Regions from separate parts of the Homo sapiens genome. Here region 2 is linked to region 1. A link means that fine-mapping ties the variant in region 1 to the expression of a gene that starts in the linked region. Tissue or cell type: whole blood. Region 1 holds a variant in brackets; the other region holds the start of a gene. All regions are shown on one strand. Distances are between the middles of the regions.

Region 1 (5,145 bases):
GCAGCCTGCCTGCTGGTGCTTGTCACATAAGAGCTTGCTCCTGACCTTCAAACATTAGAATGTCTTTCTGCGTCTCTGGTGTTGGTGCGCTCTATCCCATAACTACTTACTTCTCTCAGGACTGGTGCGAATGGCTCTTAGGGAAAAGCTGTCTAGAGCAGTCAGCCCTTACTGAGCACTGCATTAAATCTTAGTGAGTCTTCGTAGCATCGTGCTGGCTGAGCATGCTTGCCAGCTAGACAAAATGCAATGGAGATCGTTTTCACAATGACTTTAAGCAAAGCTCCCAGCATGTCATATCAGCACTACCTTTTCATGTTCTGGGAGCTTCTAGGATTCTTGGTAGAAAAGCAGGAGTGAGATGAGTAAGAAATGGAACTTTCTGTATTTACTTGATATCCGTGATGTGGTCTGTGTATTTGCTATCCAGAGAAGTCAGAAACAGCATAAGAAATTGTGAATCCTAGTTAAGATGGGAAGCAAAGGCCATAGAAGGTCTGGAATTGGGGTCAGGGGGACAAATCCTAATAGAGAAAATAAGTCCTAGCGGATGGGAAGCAAGACAGAATGTTGGACATGAACCAGGTAAGGGCCTTTGGGTCAGGGCCAGGGCTGCAGGCAGCAGGACAGTGGAAACCCCGCTGTTGTGTGAGGCCATATAATGTAGTAGAAAGGGGCCAGCCTTAGCACCTGGCTAGATTTGAATCCCAAGTTCACCACTTCGTAGTCTATGAACTTGAACAGTTTACTCAACTGCTCTGCACCTTAAGTAACTCTTTTATGAAATAGGTATAATAATAGCATCGTGCATCTCAGGGTTATAGGGAAGATTACACTAGTCAATACACATAATGCTTCTAGAACAGCACCTGGCACATACGGAGCAGTCAGGCCTTAGCTGCTATTTATTATTAATTATGTGGTGCTAGATGCATGCTTTGTAAACAGATCTCTTGGCTTGAAAAACCTGTGTCCCTCTCCTTTCTGGACCCCTCAATCCAAAATTATAGCTGAGGTGTTTACCCCAGGTCAAAAAAAATTCCTTCCCACTCAACGAGGCTAACAAATTCCTGAAAACTGCCTCCTTGGCTTAACATTCCCCAGCAGCTCTGGAGAGTAGAATAAGGACCCCCAAAGGACTTAAATTATAGAGAGAGGCTGAGAAAGCATTGCTCAGCATTGCAAATTGCTCCAGAATGAAATATGTGTTTGCCAGGACATCTGGGTGGCCCTCCAACCCCAGCAGCATTTAAGGGGAGGCTGACGTGTCTGCTGGGGCCATAGAGTTCATGTAAAAGGGGCTTGCCTAGATGACATCAATATTTTCCTCTGAATTCTCCCATGTTCTCCTTTTTTTTTTTTTTCTCTGAGACGGAATGTCACTCTGTCACCCAGGCTGGAGTGCAGTGGTGCGATCTCGGCTCACTGCAACCTCTGCCTCCTGGGTTCAAGTGATTTTCCTGCCTCAGCCTCCCGAGATGCTGGGATTACAGGTGTGAGCCACCACACCCAGCTAATTTTATATTTTTAGTAGAGATGGGGTTTCACCATGTTGGCCAGGCTGGTCTCGAACTCCTGACCTCAGGTGATCTGCCCGCCTCGACCTCCCAAAATGTTGGGATTACAGGTGTGAGCCACTGCGCCCAGCCTCCCCATGTTCCCTTCATTCCAAAAAGTTACTAGTATCTGCTTAGGGCAGCGAGACTCAAGGATGTAGCCCAGGGTGGCTGTTGTGATCAGAGCTGATGGCCCTTTCCAGGATTTGGAGGACAGGCACGTACATTATCATATCTGGTCCTCACAGTAGCACACTGGGTTCAGCAGAGCAGAGTGGAACGTGGCCTGGGGCTTTATCAGCAGCCCTGAGTCACTCTGGCCCACCCACCCCTGCTGTTCCTGTCTAGGCTTCTGAAAATGCTATTATTGAAAATTGTTATTCTTCAGGTAACATTGTTAAGGTTTCCTTCTATCGAATTGATTCTGATGAGATGTTCACAAGTTAGAGCAGCCAAAACAGAGGAGAATGAGTTTCCACTCATAAAGCTCTGTGGCAGTCCCAAGTACATTTCCTCTATGGAGTCATTACAGCACCACTTCATTAGTAGAAAGGCATGTCTGAAAGAAAAATTTCCTTGATTTTTCAAAGTGACTGGGGAAAAAAAAAGGAGAGAGAAACCTATAGGTTATGAACTTGTCAATGTCAGAGCAAAT[A/G]ACTTTTCCACAATTGCTTTAAAAATATTTTAGCCAGAACAAAGATTCTCTAGGTGAGAAGCTTTACAAATTCAGTTTTGTTTCATTTATTCAAGAAGCATTTAGTGAGAACCTTCTATATGCCAGGCAATGAGAGATAATAGGAAATATGAGCAAAGCTGGCACAGACCCTGCCCTATGGCACTTACAGTCTAAGGGGGGCAGGACCGTAAACACAAAGGCACACCCATGTGGTATAGCGCTGCCAAGGAAGATGGCACAGGGTGTGATGAAAGGGTATGATGACCTTCCTTTCTCAGGGTGGTCAGAGACGCTTCCCCAAGGAAGAGACAGGCCAGCATCTGGAGGATGGACAGGAGCTGCCTGTGGCTGGGAGCTTTTCATGCTGGAGTCATTACAGACAGTGAGAGTGATCGAGACACTGTGACGCTGGCATTTGTTGTTATTGTCTAATAGTAATAACAGCTAACATTTATGGGGTGCTTTTTGTACACTGTCCTCACTTAATACTCATGACAACCCTCCATAATAGGCATAAATGGCTGCCCCTTGCCCCTTTCACAGGTGTGGAGACTCAGGCTCAGGTGGAGCAGTAGTCAGTGGCAAGGCTGTGATTCCCACCCCCAACCTGCTGCCCCCTCCCCGGCTCCTGTGCACCATGACACCCTGAGCTGCTGCCTCCCATGGGAGGACAGGATTCTCTGCACTCCCACCTCCAAGCTAGCTGGCTTCCAGCCTCTCTCACCGTCCCTTTCAGGCCTGGGACACCTTAAAAGCCCATGCCCTGGTGGCGTGAGAGAGCCTCCCCCAGCTGGGAGGGACTGGAGCTGTGCAGAAGGGAAATGCACTCATGAGGATGTTGTCAGCCCACTTGGAGGAGGGGCGTTGGACGTTCTTACACTGACTCACCGTTGTTTACGTAACCCATTCAGTTGTTCAAGGGAGTCTTTCCTCTTTTTTTTTTTTTCAAATGATTGAACATGGGTTGTAAAACAGGATTACTTTGGTTTTGTCCCTGAATGCATGGTAGCATTTATCATTTAAACCTCCACATAAATGCCACTTGTTCAAGCTGTATAACCTTGGGCAAGTTACTTCCCTGAGTTTCAAGTAGGTTTTAAAATATTTACCCTGAAGATTTGAGGAAATTCAGTAAGATAAAGTATATAAAGTACCTGGTAAGAACTAGGTGACCAGGAGGCAGTGGGGAAACAGTGTTACCTGGAGAAGTGTTCATTTCTAACGGCTCACAGTGACCATTTTTGACAGTGATTATGGCTCTTTTCCAGGTAGTCTTATCATCTCAGGTAAAAGATAGACCCCTGTCCCCTCATCTGGCTCTGGGGCTGCTTTTCCACCGGGAGCCTGTAGCTCAGAGCTGATTATGACTCTTGAAGGAAGGAAATCTGAGGAATTTAAAGACCCTCAATGTTTTTCTCTGAGAACCACACCCAGCCTAGCACCTGGATGCTGGGGGGCCGAGCCACTCGAGGCCAAAGAGATATCCCAGCATGATCTTTTGAAATCGGTACCCCACCTCTTCCCAACTTCACCAGGTAATTTACTGTGTTACTTGAGCACCAGAGCTGTATTTTGACTTGTCAACTGTTATTTAAGCCCTTCCTTCTCTGTGATCATTTTCTTTTTTTTTTTTTTTTTTTTTTTTTTGAGACGGAGTCTCACTCTTGTTGCCCAGGCTGGAGTGCAATGGCATGATCTGGGCTCACTGCAACCTCCGCCTCCTGGGTTCAAGTGATTCTCCTGCCTCAGCCTCCCAAGTAGCTGGGATTACAGGCGCGTACAACCATGCCCAGCTAATTTTTGTATCTTTAGTAGAGACAAGGTTTCACCATGTTGGCCAGGCTGGTCTTGAACTCCTGACCTCCAGTGATCCGCCCACCTAGGCCTCCCAAAGTGCTGGGATGACAGGCGTGAACCACCGCGCCCGACCTATGATCATTTTCAGTATGAATAAAATGAACATGGAAATAAAGTATTACATATTTGGAGAGCTACTTTTCCAAATACCGTTTTTGACTTTTGAAAACTGATTTTCAGTGACCAGTCGGCAGTTTCCAGTCACTGCTGTAGACATAGACTCTAGAGTAGTCTCTTCTTCTTTTTGTTCTGAGACAGTCTCACTCTATCGCCCAGGCTGGAGTGCAACAACGGCACAATCTTGCTCACTGCAACCTCCGCCTTCTGGATTCAAGCAATCCTCCAGCCTCAGCCTCCGGAGTAGCTGGGACCACAGGTGCATGCCACCACGTCCAACTAATTTTTGTAGAGGCAGATTTTTACCATGTTGCCCAGGCTGGTTTTGAACTCCTGGGCTCAAGTGATTCACTTGCCTCGGCCTCACAAAGTGCTAGGATTACAGGCATGAGCAACCACGTCTGGCCTTTTTCAGTCTTTTCTAACTCGTGCCTCAGGACAATTAAAAAGTCTGACATCCCTCTCAAAAAATTCTACCTTCAGTAGGAGGTGTTGGGCTCATGCCAAATTATAAATGGTCAACTTTCAATGAGATTAGGGTGTTAGCACAGTAGCCAGATATGTGCACATTTTAAGGTTTCTCCTCTGTGATAGTTAAGGCAAGTCAAGACTAAAGACCTTCTGTCTAGGCAGGGAGATAGGTGGTAAATTTAAAAAGCAGCCCGCCCCTTTTATAGTCTTTTCAAGCCTAGGCCACGCGAGCTAGTGTAGGGAGCGTCATTGGGATCATGACGTCATCTTTGAATTTGGGCACATGTCTGCACATGTGTGCCTGTCATTCCAGGATTGTTTTGCCATTGTTCATTAGTTGAGTTCACAGCTGCCTCTCCAGAAAGATGACGATCTAATTATAATTGCTCATGAATCAATGAAGAACCAGGAATGTTTTCCTGTATCAACAGATGCAAACAACACAGACTTCTCTCTGTTCCTTTTGCC
Region 2 (5,145 bases), 100 kb before region 1:
TAATGTCCATTTGCAAAGTACTTTGTTGTTTGCAAATCTTTTGTCATTGGATATGTCATAATTTATTAAATATATTTGTGTTCTCACAAACCCCTGACTGCACCTAGTATCCATGCAGTCTAGTTTTCTACTTTTCAACCAGGATTTTGGATTTAAAATATCGGCTCTTCTCAGCTCAGAAGCCTAGAAGGGTTGGGGGCAGCATTGAGTGTGTTTTGGGGTTGGGCCTGGGACCAGGGGCCAGTTTTGCCTGGTAAGGCATCTGCCAAGAGGGCTGAACAGGGCCACCCTGGATCAGAGCATCCATTCATCAGGTGGAAGAGGGAAATGAATTTGTCAATCTTTGGATTTGCCTTTGACCTCTAGAGGGCTGCAACTGATGAAATGATGATGGGAAATTTGGCTGCCATCTATGACCATCTCCTTTTTTTTTTTTTTAAAGAGGGAGTCTCGCTCTGTCACCCAGGCTGGAGTGCAGTGGCGCGATCTTGGCTCCCTGCAACCTCTGCCTCCCAGGTTCAAGTGATTCTCGTGCCTCAGCCTCCTGAGTAGCTGGGACTACCAGCGCGCACCACCACGCCCGGCTATTTTTTGTATTTTTAGTAGAGATGGGGTTTCACCATGTTGGCCAGGCTGGTCTCGAACTCCTGAACTCAGGTGATCTACCCACCTCGGCCTCCCAAAGTGCTGGGATTACAGGTGTGAGCCACCACACCCGGCCTGACTAGCTCTTAGTTGTGGAATCGGTGACCCTTTAGACTGTCCAGGGAGATGGGAATAAGAATCTCTCACAACATTAGCAGTTTTTCCTCCTCCCTGCACCTCCCCCAAATCCTGTCCCCATCACTAGGTTATTTAATTTACTTATTTTGGGGGAAACAGGAGGGAAAACTAGCCCAGGTGGTGCGTGCTACTTCTTTGTATTCCATCTTAGACTAACAACAGGAAGCAGGCAGCAGAATTGCCCCACATTGGAACATCACTTGCGTTACTAATTTGTTGTTATTTACTACTTGTATTATAGGATTTAACTTTGACTTCCCAGCTAAGTTGTGAACTCTTTGGAGGGAAGCACCAATTGTGCCCACTTTTGTAGGGCCCACAGAACCCGAAATAGTGCTTAGACTTAGCAGATCCTTTGATTCTTAAATGACTTTTTTTTTCCTTTTTTTTTTTTTTTTTTTTAGCCAGGGTCTTCCTCTGTCACTCAGGCTGGAGTGCAGTGGTGCAATCATGACTCCCTGAAACCTCTGCCTCCAGGGCTCAAGTGATTCTCCCTCATCAGCCTCTCAAGTAACTGGGACTACAGGCAGGTGCCGCCGTGCCTGGCTAATTTTTGTATTTTTAGTAGAGACGGAGTTTCACACATTGCCCAGGCTGGTCTCGAACCCCTGGGCTCAAGTCATCCACCCACCTCAGCCTCCCAAAGTGCTGTGATTGCAGCCGTGAGCCACTGTGCCCAACCACGACTTTTTTTTTTTTTTTGAGACGGAGTCTCGCTCTGGAGCCACCAGGCTGGAGTACAGTGGCATGATCTCGGTTCACTGCAACCTCCATGTCCTGGGTTCAAGAGATTCTCCTGCCTCAGCCTCCCAAGTAGCTGGGACTACAGGCGTGTGCCACCATGCCCACCTAATTTTTGTATTTTTAGTAGAGATGGGGTTTCACCATGTTGGCCAGGATGGTCTCAATCTCTTGACCTCGTGATCCACCTGCCTCGGCCTCCCAAAGTGCTGGGATTACAGGCGTGAGCCACCGTGCCCAGCCACGACTTTTAATGAACTCATTTCCACACTAGAAAAGTTCCACAGCTGAGCCCCAGGGTGCCCTTCTGGATGTCAAATAAGCAGGGCAGGCAGGGTGTGCTGTGTCCCTGAGGGAGTTGGGCCCAGGCCAGCATGGAGGCTCTAGGCCTCAGGGGACATTTAGGCCTGAGTAGGGCCAACCCCAGCCCGGGACAGGTGGCTCTCGCTGGCAGGGTGACTGAGTCCCACATGCAGGGCTGGGGTGGAGAATGAATCCTCCGCCTTGGCATAGACCTTGGGCCAGCAGAGGGCTTTCATGCCAGAGTGGACTCATTCCCCGGCTGGAGCCTCTGGGCTGGCAGGAGGTGCTATGAGGCCACTCCCAGGCCCTGGTGTGGGGTCTCCAATTAAGAAGGGGGTGCGGGCAGGGTGCAGTGGTTCACACCTGTAATCCCAGCACTTTGGGAGGCCAAGGTGGGTGGATCATGAGGTCAGAAGATCGAGACCAGCCTGGCCAACATGGCGAAACCCCGTTTCTACTAAAAATACAAAAATTAGCTGGGCATGGTGGCATGTGCCTGTAATCCCAGCTACTCAGGAGGCTGAGGCAGGAGAATTGCTTGAACCCGGCAGGCAGAGGTTGCAGTGAGTCGAGATCGCGCCACTGCTCTCCAGCCTGGCGACAAAGTGAGACTCGGTCTCAAAAACAAAAAACAAAACAAAAAAGGGGGTGCTGCATCTCTGGTTTGGGGGAGGTCAGGACAGGCTCCCAGCCAGCAGAGCTTGTTGAGTCCTGGTGAGAGTGAGTTCTAGGCCCTGGTGTGGAGCCTCTGGCCCACAGGGGATGCTGGGTCCGGGATGATGCTAGGGTGGGGTGGGCGTCAGTTCCACGTCCTGGGGTGGAAAATCTGACCCAGGAGGGTTCTCTGTGTCTCTGGTGAGGGGGCAGGCCAGGCTCTTGGGCAACCGAGGACCCTGGGTTGGAGCTGTCAGTCCCAGGTCTGGAGCTGGTGACTCTGGTCCCACAGCAGAGGAATGCGGAGTCCCAGGCGGGGTCGGCCCCACACCCCAGGCCCCAGGCCCCGGCGTGGGGACTCCGGCTCGGCAGGGGGCGCTGCGTCTCGCGCGTCGCGCGGGAGGCTCGGGCGGCTCCGGGCCCACAGGGGGCGCTGTGGCGGCGCGGCGGGCGCCCGGCAGGTGGCGCTGTGGCCGTGGCCGCGGCCGAGGCCCGGCGGGCGGGCGGGCGGCGTCGCTGCGCTGCGGCCGGCTCGCGGGCCGGGGGAGCGGCGGCGGGCGCGCGGGAGGCGGAGCGGCGGCGGCGGGCGCGGCGGGAGCGGCTGGGCCCGGGCGGGCTGGAGCGCGGTCGCCGAGCGCAGGGCCGCGGCCGCGCGGAGCCCGCCATGCCGGCGCGGGTCTGAGGCGTGGCGAGCCAGGGCCGAGGCGAGCGGCGGGCGCGCCGCCCCTGTCGCCCCGCGGCGGCCCGGCCCGGGCCCGATGAGCGGCGGCCTCGGCCTCCGGCGCAGCCCGGAAATGTCCGGCAAGATCGAGAAAGCAGGTGAGGCGCGGGCGTGGGGCGGCTCCCTCCGGCCGGGCCCGGCCCTGGGGCTCCGCCGCTCCCCGGGCCGAGCGCGGGTCGCCCGGGATGTGCGGCCCTCCGTGCGCCGGGGCGGGGTGAAGCCACCGAGGCCTCGCCGGGGCGCCTGGCAGCTTCTCCTCCAGGCCCATTGCCTGCCGGGCGCGGGGGGAAGCGGCCGCTGCGGGGGCGCCAGGGGCCGGGCCGGGCGGGGCCCCTGCAACCCGGGGCCGGGCGCGCTAGCCGCTCCGCGGTCCCCGGGAACTTCCGAAAATGGCTCGAGCCCCAAGCAGGGGAAGAACAGCCCGGGCCGCGTGCTGCTGCGGCTGCAGCGATCGGTGCCCGGCCTGGGCTCGGCGCTAGGAGGGTGAACCCAGCTGAGCTGTAAAATGTGTCATTTCTAACGAGCTTCGAGTTTAACGAGAAGCGTCCACTTCGGTTGCTTCAAAGGAAGCAGGCTGGATGAGTGGGGGTATTTTGAGGAGGTAGTCAAGTTTCCCCTCCCCACCCCGATCAAGCTCAGCTCTGCAAGGAGGGCAGGTGGGGGACCGGTGGGTTGGAGTAGATGGTAAATCTTGATGCAGACCTCGTCTCTTTGTGTGTTCCTAGAAATCTGGGGGAGTTACCTTCCGAGTCCCTGGGTTTGCCTGTCCTGGAAATAGAGTCTCCAAAGATTCAATGACTGTCGAGCCTGTGGGGCCCCAGGCTTTATTAGCCTGCAGCACCTTGCAGGGCAAATGCGAATTCTTGGGTCTAAGGTGAAGTGGGCGGGTGCTCCTGGGCTCCTGTACTGGGAGCATGCCCTGTGGTCATAACCCCGGTAGCAGGTTAGCTTGGCGGCTGAATGAGGGAAAGCAGATTTTTAGGGAGCTGCAAAGGAGGTCTGTGGCTTTGATTGTGGAAGTTGCTTATGTTTCCTGGGTTGAATCTGGGATACTTCTGTGGGGTGCACCCCTGCAGCGGACCCACAAGGCAATATGACTTTTGCAGGCTGTGGTTGAAGCACAGAAGGACATTTTTGTAGGCTTTATTGAGGGTTTACTATATATCTAACTCTTAGCACCTAAAATGCATTGCTTCTTAAATTTTTGAAGCTAGTCTGTGGGAAAGAATATGGTCCCAGTTTTACAGGCTCAGAGAGGTTCAGTGAGTTCCGGCTGTCCAGACAGCAAGAGGGCGGCAGGCCCCTAGTATATTCATTCCTGGCCCTCTGACCAGAAGCCAGGGTGCTTTTCTCAGGGGCAGGGCGCTTGGGTTCAGGTGCCATTTCTTGAGTATTTTTCTCACTGAATTTGAGCCCCCACAGCCTTGCCGAGTGACCATGAGTCGCCATCCTGTACACCTGCTGCTCCAGAAATAACTTGGGTTCATCTGTGCAGCATTTCTCAGGAACTTCTTGTATAGTGTCTTGTCAGAACGGTACTGTTGGGAAACTTGGATAATTTATTTTAAAAAGAACATTCACTGAGTTCTTTTATAAGAACTTTATAATATATAAGATTATATTATATCTTTTTATATCTAATATAAGATTATATTATGTTTTATATCTTTATAATATAAGAATATTCTATGTTCATTGTCAAAACTTGGAAATCACAGAAAAGTAAAATGAACCGGATTGGAAATCATCTGTCAGCCAGGTACAGTGGCTCACGCCTGTAATCCCTGCATTTTGGAAGGCCAAGGCAGGAGGATCACTTGAGCCCAGGAGTTTGAAACAAGCCTGGGCAAAATGGCGAGACCTCATTGCTACTTTAAAAAAAATTTTTTTTTTTTTTTTTGAGACGGAGTCTTGCTCTGTTGCCCAGGCTGGAGTGCAGTGGT

Evidence for each region. PIP is the estimated chance that this variant, and not a neighbour inherited with it, causes the effect.
Region 2: RAPGEF1 starts here. The variant in region 1 is fine-mapped to the expression of RAPGEF1 in whole blood (INTERVAL, PIP above 0.99).

What each region holds. Positions count from the first base shown.
Region 1 is chr9:131,633,448-131,638,592 of GRCh38, reverse strand. The region is part of intron 5 of RAPGEF1 (Rap guanine nucleotide exchange factor 1); the gene reads left to right. Among named protein-coding and RNA genes, the nearest start is that of PRRT1B, 90 kb to the right of the region's middle. RefSeq lists an enhancer at 1,637-1,931. The variant A/G (reference allele first, on the strand shown) is at 2,212.
Region 2 is chr9:131,737,925-131,743,069 of GRCh38, reverse strand. It overlaps RAPGEF1 (Rap guanine nucleotide exchange factor 1), which reads left to right and starts at 2,994. Exons shown (of 27, transcript NM_001377935.1): 1 at 2,994-3,300. The coding sequence starts at 3,240. RefSeq lists silencers at 2,771-3,030, 3,181-3,230, 3,281-3,610.